3 linked regions of the Homo sapiens genome follow. The protein of the gene in region 1 interacts with the protein of each later gene in a pairwise test. Each region holds a gene or a part of one and is shown in the gene's direction. Other genes may lie near its edges.

The links.
Region 2: the proteins of PDPK1 (region 1) and ATXN3 interact in binary tests that used the Homo sapiens proteins (3 or more experiments, as listed by UniProt).
Region 3: the proteins of PDPK1 (region 1) and JPH3 interact in binary tests that used the Homo sapiens proteins (3 or more experiments, as listed by UniProt).

What each region holds. Positions count from the first base shown.
Region 1 is NC_000016.10:2,555,011-2,562,104, forward strand, and holds part of PDPK1 (3-phosphoinositide-dependent protein kinase 1), read left to right. Parts: intron 1-2,692; coding exon 2,693-2,953; intron 2,954-2,969; exon of another isoform or gene 2,970-6,469; coding exon 6,470-6,512; intron 6,513-6,735; exon of another isoform or gene 6,736-6,760; coding exon 6,761-6,898; intron 6,899-7,094. UniProt on the Homo sapiens protein: Serine/threonine kinase which acts as a master kinase, phosphorylating and activating a subgroup of the AGC family of protein kinases.
Region 2 is NC_000014.9:92,096,583-92,103,582, reverse strand, and holds part of ATXN3 (ataxin-3 reference isoform), read left to right. Parts: intron 1-6,744; coding exon 6,745-6,909; intron 6,910-7,000. UniProt on the Homo sapiens protein: Deubiquitinating enzyme involved in protein homeostasis maintenance, transcription, cytoskeleton regulation, myogenesis and degradation of misfolded chaperone substrates.
Region 3 is NC_000016.10:87,682,508-87,689,507, forward strand, and holds part of JPH3 (junctophilin-3), read left to right. Parts: intron 1-1,634; coding exon 1,635-1,759; intron 1,760-7,000. UniProt on the Homo sapiens protein: Junctophilins contribute to the formation of junctional membrane complexes (JMCs) which link the plasma membrane with the endoplasmic or sarcoplasmic reticulum in excitable cells.

The sequences.
Region 1 (7,094 bases):
ATTCGCTTTACATGATTGAAGCTGCTGGCGTGGAAGCTGTGCCATGTCATGTAAAGCATGCAGTGGGAAAGCAGTGGGGTGGGGGCGTCTTTGTATTACATCATCTGTTGTTGCCGTTTCAAAAATCCAGAGGCCTTTCTACACTTCAGTTGGATGTTGATTTCAAAATGACCGATGTTTCTTTCTGACTCATGAAGGCTGCTGTCTTTGGAATCTGACATTAGAGGGAAGCGAAACTTTACAATGTGTGGGGCAGCCTGGTGTGGTGGCTCAGGTCTGTAATCCAGCACTTTGGGAGGCCAAGGATGGCGGATCACTCGAGCCCTGGAGTTTGAGACCAGCCTGGGCAGCATGATGAGACCCCATCTCTACAAAAATTAGCTGGACACGGTGGTGCACACCTGTGGTCCCACTACTCAGGAGGCTGAGGTGGGAGGATCACTTGAGCCTAGGAGGTCGAGACTGCAGTGAGCTATGATCATGCCACTGAACTCCAGCCTGGGAGACAGAGTGAGACCCCGTCTCAAAACAGAAAAAAAGTCACCAGGCATGGTGGCACATGCCTGTAATTGCATCACTTTGGGAAGCTGAGGCAGGCAGATCACTTGAGTTCAGGAGTTCGAAACCAGCCGGGACAACAAGCAAAACCCCATCTCTATTTTTTCAAAATTTGTGTATATAAAATTTTTGTATGAAAGCTGTGTGGTACATGTTTAGCTGTTTTATGTTTCACTTTCTGGACATGAGTGTGATCCTCCCTGCTCTTGCAGTGCCATCTAAGCTGTCATCAGTTTTCCTGGGCGAGTGATGCATCTCCCCAGCTGGTCTGTCTGAGCCCCTGGCCAGCCAAGGGGCTGCCCTTGACTCTCCCGGCACCCGCCCGTCTCTGCATAGCCACCCCCACCACTTTAACTGGATGGTTTTGTATTGAGGTCAGGCTGGACATCAGCTTTCTATGGGCAGGGACCGTGTCCTCTTATTGGCTGAGTAATTGGGTCCATAGCGTAGGTAAGTCACCTCCTTTAAGAGACTTTGATAAGCAAAATAGTGAATATATTCTTTTTATTTATTTACTTATTATTTTTTATTTTTGAGGCAGGATCTCCCTCTGTCGTCCAGGCTGGAGTGCAGTGATGTGATCTTGGCTCATTGCAGCCTCGACCTCCCCGGGCTTAGGTAATCCTCCTACCTCAGCCTCCCAATTAACTGCGACGACAGGCACATGCCACCGTACCTGGTTAATTTTTATATTTTTAGTAGAGGTGAGGTTTTGCTGTGTTTGCCCAGGCTGGTCTTGAACTCATGGGCTGAAGTGATCCACCCACTTTGGCCTCTGCGCCCGGCCTATTTTTTTTTTTTTTTTTTTTTTTTGAGACGAAATTTCACTCTTGTTGCCTAGGCTGGAGTGCAATGGCATGCTATCAGCTCACTGCAACCTCTGCCTTGCAGGTTGAAGCGATTCTCCTGCCTCAGCCTCCCAAGTAGCTGGCATTACAGGCATGCGCCAACAAGCCCGGCTAGTTTTTTTGTATTTTTAGTAGAGACGGGATTTCTCCATGTGGTCAGGCTGGTCTCGAACTCCTGACCTCAGGTGATCCTCCCGCCTCTGCCTCCCAAAGTGCTGGGATTACAGGCCTGAGCCACTGTGCCCGGCCTAATTTTGTATTTTTAGTAGAGAAGGGGTTTATTCGTGTTGGTCAGGCTGATCTTGAACTCCCGACCGCAGGGGATCCACCCGCCTCATCCACCCAAACTGCTGGGACTACAGGCATGAGCCACCAAGCCCGGCCGTTTTTAGCGTTTAAAAGGATTGCAGCTTGGCTGGTGGCAGTCCCTCTGTCCTGGCACAGACGCAGGGGGAGACCCTGTGTCTTCAGACAGCATGGACTTCAGGACCCTACTGAGAGATGGAATCAAGAGCTCTCCGGGGTTCTTTGAGTGGGGAGTTGTATCGGAAACCACCATCAGCGCGCCTGAGCTCGCCTCGCATTGTTCTTCTGTAGTGCGGGGGGCCACTGCCACCACCGTGAGGACACGTTGGGGTCTGGGGAGGGATTGTTATGGCTGTGGGTGCACCTTGCACGTCTTGCCGACCTAGCTTTGCACGCTGATCTTCCCTCCGTGCCCGCTTACATTGTTAACTGGGTTTCTGCCCTCCCTCCTCTCCTTCGTATTTCTGTGTCTCATTGACAACTGTTCTGTAGTCGCTTTGTTGACAGTTGCCAAACTGCTTTCCAAAAACATTTCCACTGCAATCCCGGTTTTTGGTGCCAGCCGCAGTGGTGTGAGTGCGCTCGCTTTATTATAGTCTTGCCAGCACTGGGCGTCTCTGTGTATTGTAAACACATGCGATCATCACTCTTATCTCTCCATCCCCCCCACAATTAAAGATGTGCCGTGCTATCTCTGCTCAGGTTACCTTGGCCTTGGGATGAGTTGGCTGGAGGCTCAGGCAGCGCGAGGGACAGGAGGAGGGCGAGGCGCTGCCTGGTGGATTAGCGGGGAGCCATGGCACGGGCAGGACTCAGGAGAGGAGGCCGGCAGCTCACAGCAGACCGCGGGGCTCAGCTGGCCTGCCCTGTGCTTGGGGTTTGTTTTTGAGCGTTGAAATGAGGTCCTTAAACCTTAGTCCGTGCATTGAGAGCAAGGCAGCTGCCTTGAGCCTTACTTCCTTTTCCTCTTTGTCGCCTAGTATGACGCCGTGCCCATCCAGTCCAGCGTGGTGTTATGTTCCTGCCCATCCCCATCAATGGTGAGGACCCAGACTGAGTCCAGCACGCCCCCTGGCATTCCTGGTGGCAGCAGGCAGGGCCCCGCCATGGACGGCACTGCAGCCGAGCCTCGGCCCGGCGCCGGCTCCCTGCAGCATGCCCAGCCTCCGCCGCAGCCTCGGAAGAAGCGGCCTGAGGACTTCAAGTTTGGGAAAATCCTTGGGGAAGGCTCTTTTTCCACGGTGAGTATTTGCTGCTGCTGTGTGTCAAACGTACGTGATTTCCTTGGGGAGGCTCACCTTCCTCGGGGCTTGCCGGAGACTCCAAGCAAGGCTGGTGTCCTTCCAGGCAGGAGGTCTCAGGCCCCTTGAGGGGTGTCACCTGTTGTGAAGGCCACTTGAGTCTTTGGGGGCTGGGTACCCCCCAAGCAGATGACGTGATGAGTGTGGCTAAATATTTAACCTGGTTTTGTAGATGAGAACGTTAGACACATCTCTTGATGGTCTGCGGAGGTTTTTTCTGATGTAGTTAATTTCATTTTAACCTGGCATCAGCAAGTTACATTCTGTGTCCTTGTGTCTCACTGGCAGGGCCCTGGGAAGCTGTTCTTTTTCTTAGATTGAAAGTTAGTATCTCTCCAGGGTTTTTGGGGACATTTATTGACCTCTTCTTATTTCTCTGTTTTGTTTTTTTGAATACATAAAACAGTACGCTCTGGACATTTGCTGGAGACACAGCCTCCAGAGTCTTGTGTTCCGAGTTTCACAAACAGGAGTATTGTCGCAGTACTGTCAAGTCACACTTGTTACCTGTCTTCGGGGTGTTTTTTCCTCTGAAAGCAAAGAAATGAAGGTCGAAAGCAGCTGACATGGGACGTTTTGCTGACGTGGGACCCATGAAGCCGTGTGTGGTTGTGGATTTAGTGAAGGTTGTAACAGGTTCAGGGGAGGCCTGAGCAACTCGGGGTGTACTGTCTCCATCTGGGCCTCTAAAGAGACAGAGTCCCGTGCCGCCACTGTGGTCGCCAAGGTGGCCGCCGTGTGCGTGCTAGGGCCATTCCAGGGAGCCCTGGGGGCACCTCACTCTGGAGGGCCTGGGTGAGTTCCTGAATAATTCTTTCTTGCCTGACCTTTGTGAAGAAACCGTAGGTGAGGTTTATTTTCCTTTTTTCTCTTTTTTACACATAGGAAATATTTCACAATGCAAAGAAAAACATGAAATATAGCTTACCCATATTCCCAACATATTGTTTTAATTAATGTTAACTTTTGCTGCCCTTACACTTTAGATTTTTTAAATTGCAGGTTTTATGAAATAATTTTTTTATAAAAGGATTATGCCCTCATGAAAAATGCCTTCAACCATGAGACTAGTCCCCAAAGTTTTGGGGACTCAGATCCTTTCAGAAAGAAGAAACTCTTTGGAAAACCTTGGGCATTCTGCATGGCTGCTTACAACCACCCAGTGAAAGAACAGGCCTCCTCTTTTCTCAGCTTTACCTGTTTTTTGAGACAGAGTCTTGCTCTGTCACCCAGGCTTGAGTGCAGTGGCATGATCATAGCTCACTGCAGCCTCGACTTCCTGGGCTCAAGTGATCCTCTTACCTCAGCCTCCCAAGTAGCTGCAGTTACAGGAATGCACCACCGTGCCCAGCTAATTGTAAAATTTTTTGTAGAGACAGGGTCTCACTTTGTTGCCCAGACTGGTCTTGAACTCCTAGGCTCGAGTGATTCTCTCCTCAGCCTTGCAAAGTGTTGGGATTACAGGCGTGAGCCACTGTGCTTGGCCTCAGTTTTACTTCCTTGTATGTCTCTTTTTAATTTAACTTTATTTTATTATGTATGTATTTATCCTTTTAGAAACAGAGTCTTGCTCTGTCACCTAGGCTGGAGTGCAGCGGTGTGATCATAGCTCACTGCAGCCTTCACCACCTGGGCTTAAGCGATCCTCCTGCCTTAGCCTCCTGAGTAGCTGGGACCACAGGCATGTGCCACCATACATGGCCCTTAACATTTATCTTGACTGAAAAAGGAAGACTCATCTGTGAAATTGCCTGTTTCCCTGGGTTCTGGAGATGGGTGGAGAGCAGGCACTGTCCCTCCAGGGGCTGTGGTCCGTGTCTTTCTGAACCTGCACCAGGGAGGTGCCCGGGAGAGCACGGTGAGCCGGAGGCTCCTCCATGGGGCTGTTTGGAATCCACAGTACTGGGTCTCAGATTACATGTGTTACCCTCAGTTCTTTCTCAGCTTTCCTGAAATGGAGATCACATAAAAGTTGATTTCCAGGGGAGGGGGAAAGGACAGTGATAGGAGGCTGGGCAAGAGCCAGCTGCAGCACCGGAGAGCCGGGAGGCCCCCTGAGGACGGTCACAACCTCCAGGGAGGGACACGTCACGCGCCATTCTCTGGAAGAGGATCCTTCCTTCTTGTAGGAAACCTGCTTGTGAAGTGTTGAGTTTAGACAACGGAAAGATCACATCAGTATCCCCTTAGAAAGGGTTCCACTAAATATCGGTGCTCGTTCACAATTCTTTCTTCCTCTTTTCTACTTATGAAGCTAGCACGTGCTCTTGTGGAGAAACGTGACCTCACAGAAACACATGAGCTAGAGAGGGGAGCCCTGCCCGGCCCACTTCCCCTTTCTCCCTGGCAGCTGAGAGCCATCCATGCGTGGCGTATTCCTCTGGGAAGACCTTGAGTATGTAGAGTCCCCAGAATCCAACTTCATTCTTCTTGAGTGCCACAAGGCGTCTCACATGGTGCTTTCCAGGATCTCTTCTGACGTGTCCCATCAGGAGTCCTGCCCCGATTGCGGCTCACAGCCCGGGGCCAGGTGGACCTGGCCCTGTGGCCTCCTGAAGGTCTTCCTGCCAGCCCCCAGGAATGTCACGGGACAGGTTTCCTCTGCTCCCTGCTCCTCAGGCCGTCCCCCTGTGGGTGTCTTAGGAGACACTTGTGTCCCACTTGGTGGTGGTGGGGCCTCCCTGGCACAGCTGCCTCATGCTCTCTGGCTAAACCGTGGGCCCACCAGGAATCTCCAGTCTGGTGCCTCAGGGTGTGCCCCAGGCTAGTCCGAGTGGAGGGTCTCTCCCCTGTTTGGGATGCCTGCCCTGCTGGAGTGCTCTGTCTCGGAGGTGGGGTTTGAGTGCAGGGCTCAGGGGTGCTGAGAGGACAGGGCAGGAGGCCTGCTGCATCCCGGGCAGGTGGCTCCCTCTTGTGGGCACGCAGGGCCATGCATTGCTGGTTTAGCTCCCTCTGTCCTTTACAGCCAGGCTCTCTTCATGGTGCCCACAAGCAACATCATACAAAATGTATGATAACAGTTATTTCCAAAAACGAAACTTCAGGGCAGCCTTTGCAATGAATGTATACTAGAAGGACATATTGTTGTCACAGAAGCCCCTGTGCCCTGCCACTTGTGGTGGCGCCACTGTCTTCCTTCTGTTGGTGAAGGGCGTGGCAGTCGAAGAGGTTCCTGAGTTTGTACTTGTGTTGCACCGTTAGGGCTGTTAGCAGCTGATCCAGAAGCTTCTGGAAACAACAGAGAGATGGATATGTTTTCTCTTAGCTGTTAGAACACATCAACACGAGCATTGGCTTTTAGCTCTACTTGTCAGTACAAGACCCAAAATATTTCACTGTAGACTCAAGCCTTCAGTGGGGACAGGAAGCGTGCGTGTGGGGCAGAGGGACTCGTCAGGCCCAGTGTCCTGGTTATTACATTGTGTGTTTCTTTTTCTCCTTTTCTTTCCCAACCAGGTTGTCCTGGCTCGAGAACTGGCAACCTCCAGAGAATATGCGAGTGAGTATGGGCTGCAGGGAGCTGTGCGTCCGGGAGCAGGGCAAGCGGCTCCGTGCAGGGCGGCTGGGGTGGCAGGGCCGGTGTTTCTGTGCTGATTTCAGGGTACAGGACACTGTTGGCTTTAGAGACCACCAGGCTGTTGTGTACAATGTTTGAAAGACTTTAATTTGTACCAGTTACCTTTGTGAGTCATGTCTTTAGTGTTTTTTGTTGTTTCTGATAGTAACTCACTTCTCTCTCACCTGAAGTTAAAATTCTGGAGAAGCGACATATCATAAAAGAGAACAAGGTCCCCTATGTAACCAGAGAGCGGGATGTCATGTCGCGCCTGGATCACCCCTTCTTTGTTAAGCTTTACTTCACATTTCAGGACGACGAGAAGCTGTGTATCCTTTGCGTGGTTGGTGCCGTCTGAAGCCACACCAGTCACCCCTCTCACTTGGAATCAGACCCTGTGTGTTCCCACAAGCAGCCCCCGCTCCCTGCCGAGTGGGGTCCCTCAGGCCGCTGACATTCAGGGAGGCAGCCGAGGCAGCGCCAGGGTGTGGCTGGGAGTCTGCACAGGACGTTACCTCCCGGAGA
Region 2 (7,000 bases), on another chromosome or scaffold:
GTTAGCACATGCCTGTAGACTTGGGAGGCTGAGGTGGGAGGATTGCATGAGTCTGGGAGGTCGAGGCTGTAGTGAGCCATGATCGCACCACTGCACTCCAGCCTAGGGGACAGAGCAAGATCCTGTCTCAAAAGAAAAAAATGTATATATTTGAATGGATAAAGAGATGGCTTTGAGTTTCTGAGATATATATGGTGCTGTTTATCTAAAGTAAACAAGTTTTCTGTAAATATTTTAAGGCTTTGCAGGCCAGCTGTAGTCTCTGTCACACATTCTTATTTGTGCATGTTTTTCCCAACCATGTAAAAATGTAAAGTGCATTCTTAGCTACTGGGGCAGGTTGAATTTGGCCCATGGGCTAGAGTTTGCCAACCCCTAACTTAAACCTTTGTACTAACTTTATGACCACTACTGGATTTTTGTTGTTGTTTGTTTTAGTTCTGGTGCCTGCTTTGTTTTTTTTTTTTTTTTTAATCCTCTTGCTGATGTTTCTTGGTGCAGTTACTGTGCCATTTGTATTGGTGCTTTTAATGTAATGCAAACTGGTAATAATATCTAAACTTGCTGGGGTTGTACATAAAATTATTGAAAAGATTGAAAAGATGCTGAGCATTGACTCTGTGGCATTCATTATGCCCTTTTGTGATTGCTGGATTTTAGCCATCTTTAGGACATTTGAGCTTTAGGAGAAGCCAAATTCTGTATAAATGACTTGAAGTGCTAATAGCACAGGTTTTGAAACCTCTGCCTGGGTTTGAGTCTCAGCTCTGCCTTTTACTACCTGTGTGATCCTGAGCAAGTTACTTAGTATCCCTGTCCTCTAGTTTCCTCCTCTGTAGTGTGGGGATAATAACATAGACATAACCTGAGAGTTAGAGTGTAGAGAAGGCTCCCTGGCAGATAGTGCTGTAGAAGTACTGGCCATTGCCATTACTCAGGTGCTTGTGTTTGCTGAACCTCATAGTAAGGGCTCGGAGAGCACTAAGAGGAGGTGAGAAATGCTGCTAGATTGACAGCTTGTCCCCAGATAGCCCATTCCCGAGAGCACCTTAGGTTTATACCTGATTTGTGTTGTAGTTAGTAGTGTCTCTGGTAATTTGAACTAGTTTCAGGTTGGTCTTGAAAACCTGGGGAGGTTGGGGGTAAATGATTTGGTAGCAGTTCTCTTTTGTGATTTTATACATTATCTTTGTAGAACTGCAGTTTGCTAATTCTCTGAGCCCAACACAATGAAGTCTGGGCCTAAAATCATAGAATTTCTTTTATTTTTTTTTTTGTTTTTAATTTATTTATTCCCTCCCTCCCTCCTTTCTTCCTTTCTTCCTTTTCTTTCTTTCTTTCCTTCCTTCCTTCCTTCTTTCTTTTCTTTCTTTCTTTTCTTTCTTTGGAGTCTCACTCTGTCACCAGGCTGGAGTGCAGTGGCACGAACTTTCTTCAGAGTCTCACTTTGTCACCAGGCTGGAGTGCAGTGGCGCGAACTCAGCTCACTGCAACCTCCGTCTCCTGAGTTCAAGAGATTCTCCTGCCTCAGCCTCCCGAGTAGCTGGGACTATAGGCATGTGCCACCATGCCCAGCTAATTTTCTTATTTTTAGTAGAGACGAGGTTTCACCATGTTGGCCAGGATGGTCTTGATCTCTTGACCTCGTGATCCACCTGCCTCAGCCTCCCAAAGTGCGGGGATTACAGGCGTGAGCTACCACGCCCAGCCTATTTTTTATTTTTTGAGGCAGAGTCTCACTCTGTCACCCAGGCTGGAGTGCAGTGGTGCAATCTCAGCTCACTGCAACCTCCGCCTCCTGGGTTCAGGTGATTCTCCTGCCTTAGCCTCCTGAGCACCTGGGACTACAGGCGCCTGCCACCACACCTGGCTAATTCTTATATTTTTAGTAGAGGCGGGGTTTCACCATGTTGGCCAGGCTGGTCTCGAACTCCTGATCTCAAGTGATCAACCTGCCTTGGCCTCCCAAAGTGCTGGAATTACAGCCATGAGCCACCATGCCCAGCCAAATCATGAGATTTCAATACCGCTGAACTTTGATTATGGCAAAGTGAACTTCTGCTTTGATTAAAGCTTGATGAGAGAGGTGGCTGGGGATAGTTTGAGATAAGGGCAAGGCAGGAAAATGCATAATCTTACGTGGGCTCATTGTCATTGTACAATTCTTTTGGTCCATGTGGAATTTGATCCGTCCTATGACTTAAGTTATGTTTATTTTTGTTTTTATTTTTATTTATTTTGTGTCTTTTTGAGAGACATGATGTTGCTCTGTCACCTGGGCCAGAATACAGTGGCACAATCTTAGCTCCGTGTAGCCTTGAACTCCTGGGCTCAAGTGATCCTCCCACCTCAGCCCCTCAAACAGTTGAGATTATAGTATGAACCACTGTGCCTAGCCTTAAGTGATTTTTAAATTTGTACTGAACAGTTTGTCCTTTCCTTCCATTAAATCATATTAGAAGTACAGAACTTGATATTTCCTGTAGCAATACAGTTTTTCTTTGATGAAGTTTGATTTCAAGTACTTATTTTTCATAATTTAAAGCTATTTTTTATAGAGAGAATTTTAATCAAATATTTGGATGTCACTATTGCTATATATGGTATTAAGTATGGTGACCATAGTTTGTAAACTCCAAACTGACAGCAAGACAGGAAATTTGTGTTAGCAAAGGCTTTTTTCTTACTGTTTGAATTTTTTAAAAATTAGATACAATACAGAGAGGAGCACACAAATCATTAAGAGTACAGCTCAGCGAATTTTCACACAGTGAACATGTGTAAACAGCAAGTAACAAAAGATTTACCTGCATCCTATAACCTCCCATTATTCCCTTTTCTAGGTACTGTCTCTCCACTGCATTCCCACCAAATATAACCACTATGCTGAATTCTGACATCATAAATGAGTTTTGCCTGATTTTGAGCTTTTGTGACTGGAAGTGTACAGTGTATATACCCTTTCGATTCTGTCCTCTTTAGTTTACCATTGTTTGAGAAATTTATCCATACTGTTCCAGAATTAACTACTGTTAATTATTGTTAATTAACTACTGTTGTAGTTAATTCATCCTCATTGTTATCTAGTATTCTTTTGTGAGTAAACACAATTTCCATTCTACTGTGATCCCAGCTATCCATTTGGGTCGTTTCCAGTTTGGGGTCCATTACAAATAGTAATGCTATCTGTAATGCTATTTTGTATTACTACAAATAGTAATGCTATTTGTGGCACAAAAATACTGCTTTTGTGAACATTCTTATACATGTCTTTTGATGAATGTATGTTTGCATTGCTGTTGTTTACATTATGTACCTAGTAATGGAATTGCTAGATCATAGGAGATGTATATATTAAGCTTTAGTGGATGCATTACATAATTATTAGTTATTATTGGTTATACCAATTTATCCTCTCATCAGTAGTATACAACAGTTTCTGTATCTCTAATCTCCAACATTTTAGCCATTTTAGAGTTTGTGTACTAACACATTGTGGTTTTAATTTACATTTCCCTGATGACTAATAAAGTTGAGTACCTCTTTTGTGTTCTTTATAGCCATTTGACTGTCTTGTGAAGTGCTTGTTTGTCTTGCCTATTTTTCTTTTCTTTCTTTCTTTTTCTTCCTTCCTTCCTTTCTTTCTTTCTTCTTTCTTTCCTTCCTTCTTTTCTTTCTTTCTGTCTTTCTTTCTTGTCTTTCTTGTCTTTCTGTCTTTCTTGGTCTTGCCCTGTCACCCATGCTGGAGTGCAGTGGTGCAGTCTCAGCTTACTGTAGCCTCGACCTTTTTGGGGCTCAAGTTATCCTCCTTTCTCAGCCTCCCAAGAAGCTGGACTACAAGCACGCACCACCATGCTCAGTTAATTTTTTATTTTTTGTAGAAATGGGGTTTCACCATGTTGTCCAGGCTGGTCTCAAACTTCTGGGCTCAAGTAATCCTCCTGCCTTGGCCTCCCAAAATGCTGGGATTACAGGCATGAGCCACCGCAGCCAGCCTTGGCTATTTTTCAAAAGGATATAAGTAGAACATCTGTATATCCCTTCAATTTGCATATTATTCAGTAAGAGTTGCACTCTGGTAGTAGAAATATATAAGGAGGAGAAAGAAGTGGAAACAAAAAGTCTATTCTCATGAGAAGACTTGGGGGATAGTGTTCTCTCTAGCTCCAAGCTACTTATTCCTTACGAAAAGTTGAAGATAAACTTATCTCAGACTGAGGCTGTCTCAATGTTGTCTTCCTATTCCATTATACACATATAACCCATATTTTTTTCACCAGCTGAATTTTGCTCCTAGAAAATTGATTCATCAGGAAAAATATCCGTCTTGCAAGGTGGTTCTCTTTAGAGTCTGCTGTGTGACATAGCTCAGGACAAATTGTGTGATGTCAGATAGGTTGGGTTAAGGAATAGACCTTATTGGGGAAAGAGAGAACTTGGAGGGCCAAGGTTAGCAGGAGAAGGAAATGTTCTCTCATCTGCCGTCAATTCAGGGAGGGGCAAACCTGGTGTCTGTGTTCACAGGGAGGGATCCATCCATCTGTGATTCTCCCTTCTTATCAGGTAGCATGGGAAAGCTACACTGTTGCGGGGAGGAGGGTCACACGCAGGCTACTTAGTACCAGGCACCCTGGACTTGGATTCAGGTTGCCAGTTGTGTGAGAAACTGCCCAGCACCTGAAGGCCCTGAACCCATGAGAAGTTGTACCTACCTCCCATGAGGAGGAATCCTGTCATCCCATGGGAGCTGAGCTTGGGTGCAGTCCCTCTTGCTGGCTTGTCCAGGAGTGAGCTCCAGGGTTGTTTGGGACAGTTCTGCTCATTGCTTTACACTGTGTATACATTATCTGTAGAGTTCCATGAAGAGAACTTCAGCACTGTAACTGCAAGTTTTAACATGGAACAGAATTTTTCTCACCTGTATTAATTCTTAAGATTTGAAGTTCTATCAACAAGCATTTAGATTGTGTGGAGATTTTTTTATTTTTATTTTTGGAGACAGAGTCTTGCTCTGTTACCCAGACTGGAGTGGCAGTGGCATGGTCTTGGCTCACTGCAGGCTCTACTTCCTGGGTTCAAGCGATTCTCATGCCTCAGTGTCCTGATTAGCTAGGACTACAGGTACACACCACCATGCTGGCTAATTTTTGTATTTTTAGTAGAGACGAGGTTTCACCGTATTGGTCAGGCTGGTCTCGAACTCCCAGCCTCAAGCAGTCCACCCACCTCGGCCTCCCAAACTGCTGGGATTACAGGTGTGAGCCACCATGCTTGACTGACATCATCATGTTAAAAGAATAAATGTTCTAGGGAGCTGGGCACAGTGTCATGTTTCTGTAGTTCTAGCTGCTCGGGAGGCTGAGGCAGGAAGATCCCTTGAGCCCTGGAGTTCAAGTCCAGCCTGGGCAACATAGTGAGATCTCTTTTTTTAAATAAATAAATAACTGTTCTAGGGACTAAAATTTCCTTTCACCATTAGTAATTTACTGTAGAATCTCCAAGAATGAACTTATTTTAGGTACTGAAAATGAGGGAGACTAAATGTTTTATACAGTAGTTTTTAGTAAAATATGAGATTTGATGCATTTGATAGATGATGTTTGTTTAAAATAATTCTTAAATTTTTGATCATGTAATTATAGTTTCATTAATGGTAGATTTGTAAAATAAATGTTACCAAATGAAAATGCATGTACCTATGTTAATTATCCTTATCTAAAGCTGAAAGTTCAGTTCAACTATGTTAAAACATAGTAGGGGCCTGGCAGGGTGGCTCTTGCCTGTAATCCCAGAACTTAGGGAGGCCAAGGTGGGCAGATCACGAGGTCAGGAGATCGAGACCATCCTGGCTAACATTGTGAAACCGTATCGCTACTAAAAATACAAAAAATTAGCCGGGCATGGCGGTGGGCACCTGTAGTCGCAGCTACTTGGTAGGCTGAGGCAGGAGAATGGCGTGAACTCAGGAGGCAGAGCTTACAGTGAGCCGAGATCATGCCACTGCACTCCAGGCTGGGTGACAGAGCAAGACTCCATCTCAAAAAAAAAAAAAAAGTTGGCCAGGTGTGGCGGCTCACACCTGTAATCCCAGCACTTTTGGAGGCCGAGGCAGGCGGATCACAAGATCAGGAGTTTGAGACCAGCCTGGCTAACAGAGTGAAACCCTGTATATACTAAAAATACAAAAATTAGCCAGGCATGGTGGTGCATGCCTGTAGTCCCAGCTACTTGAGAGGCTGAGGCAGGAGAATCACTTGAACCCGGGAGGCGGAGGTTGTGGTAAGCTGAGATTGCTCCACTGCACTCCAGCCTGGACAACAGAGCAAGACTCTGTCTCAAAAAAAAAAAAAATTAATGATTAAATTATTTAGGGGAGCCGGGCGCAGTGGCTCACGCCTGTAATCCCAGCACTTTGGGAGGCCAAGGCGGGCGGATCACGAGGTCAGGAGATCAAGACCATCCTGGCTAACACAGGATGAAACCCCGTCTCTACTAAAAATACAAAAATTTAGCCGGGCGTGGTGGCGGGTGCCTGTAGTACCAGCTACTCGGGAGGCTGAGGCAGGAGAATGGCATGAACCCGGGTGGCGGAGCTTGCAGTGAGCCAAGATAGCGCCACTGCACTCCGGCCTGGGTGAAAGAGTGAGACTCCGTCTCAAAAAAAAAAAAAAATTATTTAGGGGAAGATACTATACAATTCTGTTTAACAAGTCACATTTTAATTTTTTCTTTTGGAAATATTAGCAAGAAGGCTCACTTTGTGCTCAACATTGCCTGAATAACTTATTGCAAGGAGAATATTTTAGCCCTGTGGAATTATCCTCAATTGCACATCAGCTGGATGAGGAGGAGAGGATGAGAATGGCAGAAGGAGGAGTTACTAGTGAAGATTATCGCACGTTTTTACAGGTACTGATTTTAAACTCACTAAGTCACATTTCTTTTTTTTTTTTTTTTTTGAGACGGAGTCTCGCCCTGTTGCCCATGCTGGAGTGCAATG
Region 3 (7,000 bases), about 85 Mb from region 1:
AGAGAGCACCCTCGCTTCTTCTACCATGTGAGCACCCAGCAGGAAGGTGCTGTCCAGGACCCAGAAAGTGGGTCCTCTGCAGACACCAAATCTGCTGGCACCTTGATCTTGGACTTCCAGCCTCCGGAACTGGGGGAAAGCAATGTCTGCTATTGATGAGCCGCCCAAGCTGCGGTGCTTTGTTGCAGCCCCAACAGGCTAAGTCAGGAACCGTGAACAGGAGACCTCCCAGGGAGTCTGCTCGGAGGGGGGATTTGTCGTGGGGGAATTGGTCATTGTGCCTCAGTTTCCCCATTGTTGGGGAAGTGGTGCCCATGGCCACTGGCAGGCCCCCCCGGGGGCCAGCACACCAGGTAGGAAGAAATGCAAGCCCCAGGCTGCTGAGATGCACAGAGCCCCACATTCTGCCTTCGGGACGTCTGTCTAGTCCCTTGTCTTACAAAGGGTGGGCAGGTCCCCTGCAGGACTCAGCAGAGGGAGAGACACAGTCAGGGAGCGGCCAGAGGGGTGACGTGCCCGGCTGCCCACAGGTACAATGGCTCCTTCGTGTCACACATGGGTGTCGGCGTCATCTTTCGGCTGGGTGAGGGAACTGCCCAGCTGCCCAAGCCCTGGGTTCCCAAGTCAGAGTTGCTGGGATTACTGGGCAGGGAGGTGGTCCCGCAACCCACACCGGGGCAGTGGCAGGAAGCACAGACACACACAGCACAGCGGGCCGGCACCGCCGGGGTGGGTTGTCTGGGCTTGGACTCTTTCTGTGCACATGCTGATGTTTGTTGATAATAAGAACAGAAACATTTTCTTTTTTTTTTTTTGAGATGGAGTCTTGCTCTGTCACCCAGGCTGGAGTGCAATGGCGTGATCTCCGCTCACTGCAACTTCCGCCTCCCAGGTTCAAGCAATTCTCCTTCCTCAGCCTCCTGAGTAGCTGGGATTACAGGCACGTGCCACAACACCCGGCTAATTTTTGTAATTTTTAGTAGAGACGGAGTTTCACCATGTTGTGCAGGCTGGTCTTGAACTCCTGACCTCATGATCTGCCCGCCTCAGCCTCCCAAAGTGCTGGGATTACAGGCGTGAGCCACTGTGCCCAGCCCCTCCCCTTTTTTTTTTCCTTGAGACAGAGTCTTGCTCTATTACCCAAGCTGGAGTGCAGTGACGCGATCTCAGCTCACTGCAACCTCCACCTCCCAGATTCAAGCAATCCTCCTGCCTCAGTGTCCCGAGTAGCTGGGACCACAGATGCGTGCCATCACACCCAGCTAATTTTGTATTTTTGGCAGAGACAGGCTTTTGCCATGTTGCCCAGGCTGGTCGTGAACGCCTGAGCTCAAGCGATCTTCCTGCCTTGGCCTCCCAAAGTGCTGGGATTACAGGCGTGAGCCACCATGCCCTGCCCAGAGGTGTTTTCAAGCATGTCCTGTGCACTGGGCCTGGTTGGTTGATGCTCAGTGATGTTTATTGAATGAATGAATGAATGAACGAACAAGATCCAGAAGTCTGAGGGTAAACATGGGGTGCCAGCATCTTGTCTTAGCCCAGCCCGTTGTTGGGGGGTTGGCAGAGTACCTCAACCCAGACCCCTGTCACCTGTGCCCCCTGCCCCCCCTCACGCTCCTCCCTGTCTCCCCCAGGACCTCCCACTCTCGGGCAAAGGCCGAGGCAGCCCTCACAGCAGCTCAGAAAGCCCAGGAGGAGGCGCGGATCGCCAGGATCACTGCCAAAGAGTTCTCCCCTTCCTTCCAGCACCGGGAAAACGGTGAGTCTCGCCGGGCCTGATACTGGCATCGTGGGGAGGGGGTGCGTGGATGGCTGGGCAGTCCTGGCAGCAGATGTGTCCTCCAGAGCGGGTAGGCTTAGATGGGCTCAGCCCCAGCTGCTCCCCTGCCCGGTGTCTTCCTCTCCCGCCGAAGGTGCTTGTTTGTGCCAAGGCCTGGCCTGGCTCCCCGGGACACAGGACATGTGTCTTGGCAGGTCTCTCCCATTCCCACAGTCCTTGGGGCACCGCGTGTTGCTTGCCGGCTGTCCCTGACGGTGAATTCCCACCTGCCCAGCCTGTGCTGTCTGCTGCCCGCCCTCCCCCAGTGTTGTTCTAGAACCTTCTGGGATGATGGAACTATCTGCTGGGTCCAGCGTGGCAGCCATTAGCTGGGTGTGTCTGCGGTCCTGGCTCTTGACCTGCCTCTGATGTGAACTAACTTACCATTAAACACACCCAGTGGCTGCTGGGTTGGACAGCGTCACAAATGGCAGCTCCCGCTGTGCCCCTCGGAAAGAGCTGGAAGCTGCTGCCTGATTTAGGAACCTCGTCCTCCCTTCGAGGGGGGGATCATGGGTGATACGGCCCAGTGACAGTGGCGGGGGCGTGGAGGGTGTGGGGTGGGTGGCGGAGAGGCCGTGGCCAGCTGCCTCCCATCTCCTACCTCATCTTGGAGGAAGCTTCCTCTGCACCAGGAGGCCCCAGAGAATGGGGTTAGGAGCGCGCCCCCTCAACCCGAGCTCTGACCGGTGAGCGGTATTCGGATGAGGCTCTGCGCGCTGGAGGTCCGCACCTGACACCACAGCCCTGAACTTGCTCGCAACGCCTGCCACTCTGGCCACCAGGACAGGATGAGGAGCCCAGCCTGGGGGCTGCGGGGCTGGGCGCTCCCCTGACTGGAACGCGAGACCACATCATCTCTAGAGGTGACCGTCCGCCACCACTCCAAGACCTTGCCTTCACTGGGCGAGTGCCGGGCCCTGCAGAGCCTGCAGCTGCAGCCTGGAGGTCAGGAGGACGAGCCCCCGCACCCCCACCGCCTTGGGCAGCTTCTATTCCACTGCGTCCCCTCCACTCTCCTGGCCCCTCCAGACACACGCACCCCAAAGTGTCCAAGTGGGAGGGCAATGGGCCACGTGCCCCTGTGGCCATTGGCATCCTCCATGGTCTCGCCCTCAGGCCCTGAGTTTCCTTCTCCCTGGGGCCCCTCCTTGCCTCGCCCACGACCAGCTGCCTGGGCTGGGAGGCGGTGGGGCGCACACTTGGGGGCACACGTGTAGCGTGCACGTGCATGTGGGGAGTGGGTGCAGTGCTGCGGGATGGACGAACGGAACAGGGATGCTGGAGAGGAAGCCAGTGCCGTCGGGGGCACCTGCCAGAACCCTGGCTGGGCCACTCCACGCAGAATGCACGTAGGACGGCATGGGATTCCACGTACCAACCCTGGCCCATGGTCGCCTCAGCTCCAGCCCTGCCTGCGACTCACATTCCACTGCCTGCGGCCTGTTTTGTTTCCTCTCAGAGCCTCAGTTCCATGTGTGAAAGGAAGGGGACCAGACAGGGAACATTGAAGCCTCCATCCTGTGCCAAATCCCCCAAGAGACGCATCCACCGGAAGCTCCCAACGTGACTTATTTGGGAGGAGGGTCTGTGCAGGTGTCATTATGGAACAGACTTTGAGACAAGATCAGCCTGGATTGGGGTGAGTCCTAGATCCACGCGGCGTCCTTAGAAGAGACAGAAGAGGAGGAGACAGGGGCGGATGGAGTGATGTCAGAGATCACTGGAGACTCCGTGGCTGGAGGGTGGCTGGAGCGGAGACCCTGGAAGGAAGCAGCACTCCCGACACCTGGATCACGGCTTCTAACTTCCAGAAACACGAGTTTGCCTTTTGGGTGTTTCTACCCCCACCCCCGCGTGGTGCTTTACTGCTCCAGTCCCAAGAAATGGGTGCAGGCTCCCCCACCCTGAGAATTCCAGTTAAGACTCTGGAGTCGGAGATGCTTCCTGGAGGGCTCAGTCCTGGAGTCAGAGGAGATGCTTCCTGGAGGGCTCAGTCCTGGAGTCAGAGATACTTCCTGGAGGGCTCAGTTCTGGATTCAGAGGAGATGCTTCCCAGAGGGCTCAGTCCTGGAGTCAGAGATGCTTCCTGGAGGGCTCAGTTCTGGATTCAGAGGAGATGCTTCCCAGAGGGCTCAGTCCTGGAGTCAGAGATGCTTCCTGGAGGGCTCAATCCTGGAGTCAGAGATGTTTCCCGGAGGGCTCAGTCCTGGAGTCAGAGATGCTTCCTCGAGGGCTCAGTCCTGGAGTCAGAGATGCTTCCTGGAGGGCTCAGTCCTGGACTTGGAGATACTTCCTGGAGGGCTCAGTCCTGGATTCAGAGGAGATGCTTCCCAGAGGGCTCAGTCCTGGAGTCAGAGATGCTTCCTGGAGGGCTCAGTCCTGGATTCAGAGGAGATGCTTCCTGGAGGGCTCAGGTCCCTGCAGGAGGGGCCTTGGGCTGACCTTTTAAGTCCTGAAGCTGCCTCCTCCGACAGTTCTTGTCTTCATGATACAGATGCGGGCCCCTGTGGGGGCCGCTGTGATGGAGAGACGGGGCCGCTGCTGCCTCACTGGTGGGAGTCCAGTCCTCGAGGGTCTGGCCAAGTTGGCCTCACCTCCTGCTGCTGCACCTTGGAGCCTGGCTCACTCTGAGCACCTCGGTCCGATCTGCCACCTCTTTGGGTGGCGCCCCGGAGCCTTCTCTGAGCAGCATCTTCCCTGGAGGGGGCGTTGGGACCGTGTGTTTTTTACAAGCGCTGGGACTGGCATGAGATTTGATCCAAGCATTTCTTGTTTCCGCCTTGGATGCATTCAGGATCAGTGTTCCCAGACCAGGCACCCCGGGGCCTTCTCGGCTGCTGGGGAGGGGTGGGGCTGGGGGAAGCTGTCCAGGTCCTTCCTCAGTCGTCCTCACAGCCAGGAGCTGAGGTCACCAATGACAGATGACAGAACAGAGCCTCCAAGAGGGGAACAGGGTTGCCAGAGCGCTCAGGCAGGATGTGGTGGAATCAGGATTTAAAACGAGGCTCTGAAGCCTGGGCCATGCCGGCTTCTAGAGAAGCAAACCATCCAGCGCTTCGGCTGCAGAGAGTGGCTGGCGCCAGCCTCTTGCTGCCTGTCTGGGAGGTCCCTGGCAGCCTCCCAGCCCGAGAACTCTGACCGTCAGGGTTCTGCCCAAGGCCACGTGAAGGCAGGACCATGAAGGAGCCTGGCCATGCGGTGTCCAGTGCCCAGGCCACTTCCGGTGCCATCCGCCCCCGCCCCAGAGGCAGGAGGACTGAGCGTCGGAGGCTGCAGGACGCAGGTGGCTTGAAGGCACAGGAAGAAGCTGCAGGGGCTTCACGAGGACCCGCCCTGCATCCTCACCACGAGGCTTCTAGGAACGTTACCTGCTCAGCAGCTCATTCTAGCTGAGGGTGCCCTCCTGCTGGTGGTGCTGGGAGTCGGGGCCCCTCTAGCGTGGGGTCTCCTGGGCCAGCCAGGCCTGATCTCGGCAGCAGTGGGTGGACGACCTGGTGGGAAAGGCCGGGGCGCCATCGGGGGATGGGGGGGGCCTTGATCCCAGCCTGCTAGGTCCATAGCGTCTAAGGCACAGGAATGCCAGCCCCTTGGAAGTCCCATCCTGGCCAAGGAGGAGGTACGATGTGGGTGATCCGTGGGCATGATTGGGGGCCTCTGATGGGGCCAGGGCTGCCCTCCACACAGGACCCTCACGGGGAGAGAGGTGGTGGGGCTGGGCGTCAGGTGGGTACGTGGATGTCAGCACAGTTCTACACAGACCTTCTCTGGCCCATTCCCTGCTCTGCTCGGGGGACACCCAACCAGCCCAGCCCTGTTTCTGGGGAGTGACCACAGAGAAGCAGTCATTGAGACCTCAGAGTGGCCCACCCACACCCCCGTGTGACAGGAACTCAGACTTGGGAGGGCTGGCCACCCACCCAGAGCTACCCAGCTGTGCCCCAAGCCCCAGGCCAGGGCCATGGCCTCGCTCTGCTCAGCACTGCCTCTTAGACCAGCAAGGAGGAGGACACAGCAGCCCAGCCTGGTGGCGTCGCAGCGTGCCCCGAATCTGCTTGCTAACGTCTCTTTACAAACGGAGGGACTATCTGGTGCCACACCGAGGGTAGCCATGTCTCCCAGACCTTCTCCTGCCAAAAGGTCAGACTGGGGTACAGGCGTCTCCCAGACCTTCTCCTGCCAAAAGGTCAGACTGGGGTACAGGCCAGGAGAATGTCCGAGCGTGAGAGACTCTAAGATGGGCAGTGGCTCTTGGTGTCCGAGCTGGTCTCATGAGGTGGCCGCCCCGGGTAGAGCTCTGAGACCTCCGTCCTCAGAGGGAAGACTCCCCAAATTCCCACAGAGCTCTGCACCATTTTGGCTCGGGCAGGACGGGGATGCTGGGGGCGGGGGTCCCACTGTTCTGTGCTGAGCCTAGGACGCTACTTGAGATGAACGTGTAACTGTTCCCCGGAGGGTAAGAAGCGCCGCGTTCTTGGGTTTCTCCTAATGGAATAAAGTCGGGCATGGCTCCCGTGTCCCTGCGTTGGCAGGAAATGAGATCCCAGTCAATGTTCTTGGTTCTCACCTCCTGCTGGGGGCTCACGGAGCTCCGGAGAAGTCTCGGGGCTAGTCCTACAATGCTGCCCCTCCCTATCCAGGCCTCCGGGTGGGGGCTGATGGGGACTGAGCCACCGGCAGACGACAGGGACTCTGCTGGCTGCAGAGCTGGCCCCTGGGTCCTGTGGTGACCTCCCCTTCCGGGGAGCCCCGCCCTAGGACTTGAAGCCCCAGCAGCCTCGAAAGGTGGGGAGGGAAGTCGGCTCCTGGGCTCTCACGCTGGCCCCGGCACTGGCTGTTTCTCAGCAAGACTGTCCCAGCACCCTGAGACACAGTCCCAGGCGGGTAGGGGTGTTGGCGGCCTTGCTGTGACAGCTCGGCCTCCCCAGACAGGTGGTCAGCTAGGGTGAGGGGCTTCCTCTTACCCTCAGGACAGGCGAGTCAGGGTTGGTGGGACCTGAGTCCACACCCCAGCGTCCTCACGCACTTTCCGAGCCTTGGGTCTCCCTTGTAGCCTGGGAGCTGCTGTCCGCCCTTCCTGTGGTGCCTGGGCCTAGCCAGTCTCCCTCCAAGTGTCTGTGGGGTGGGGACCACGGGGGTCCCACAGAGGGCTTTGGGAGCCACGGTCCCCACTCCCCTCCC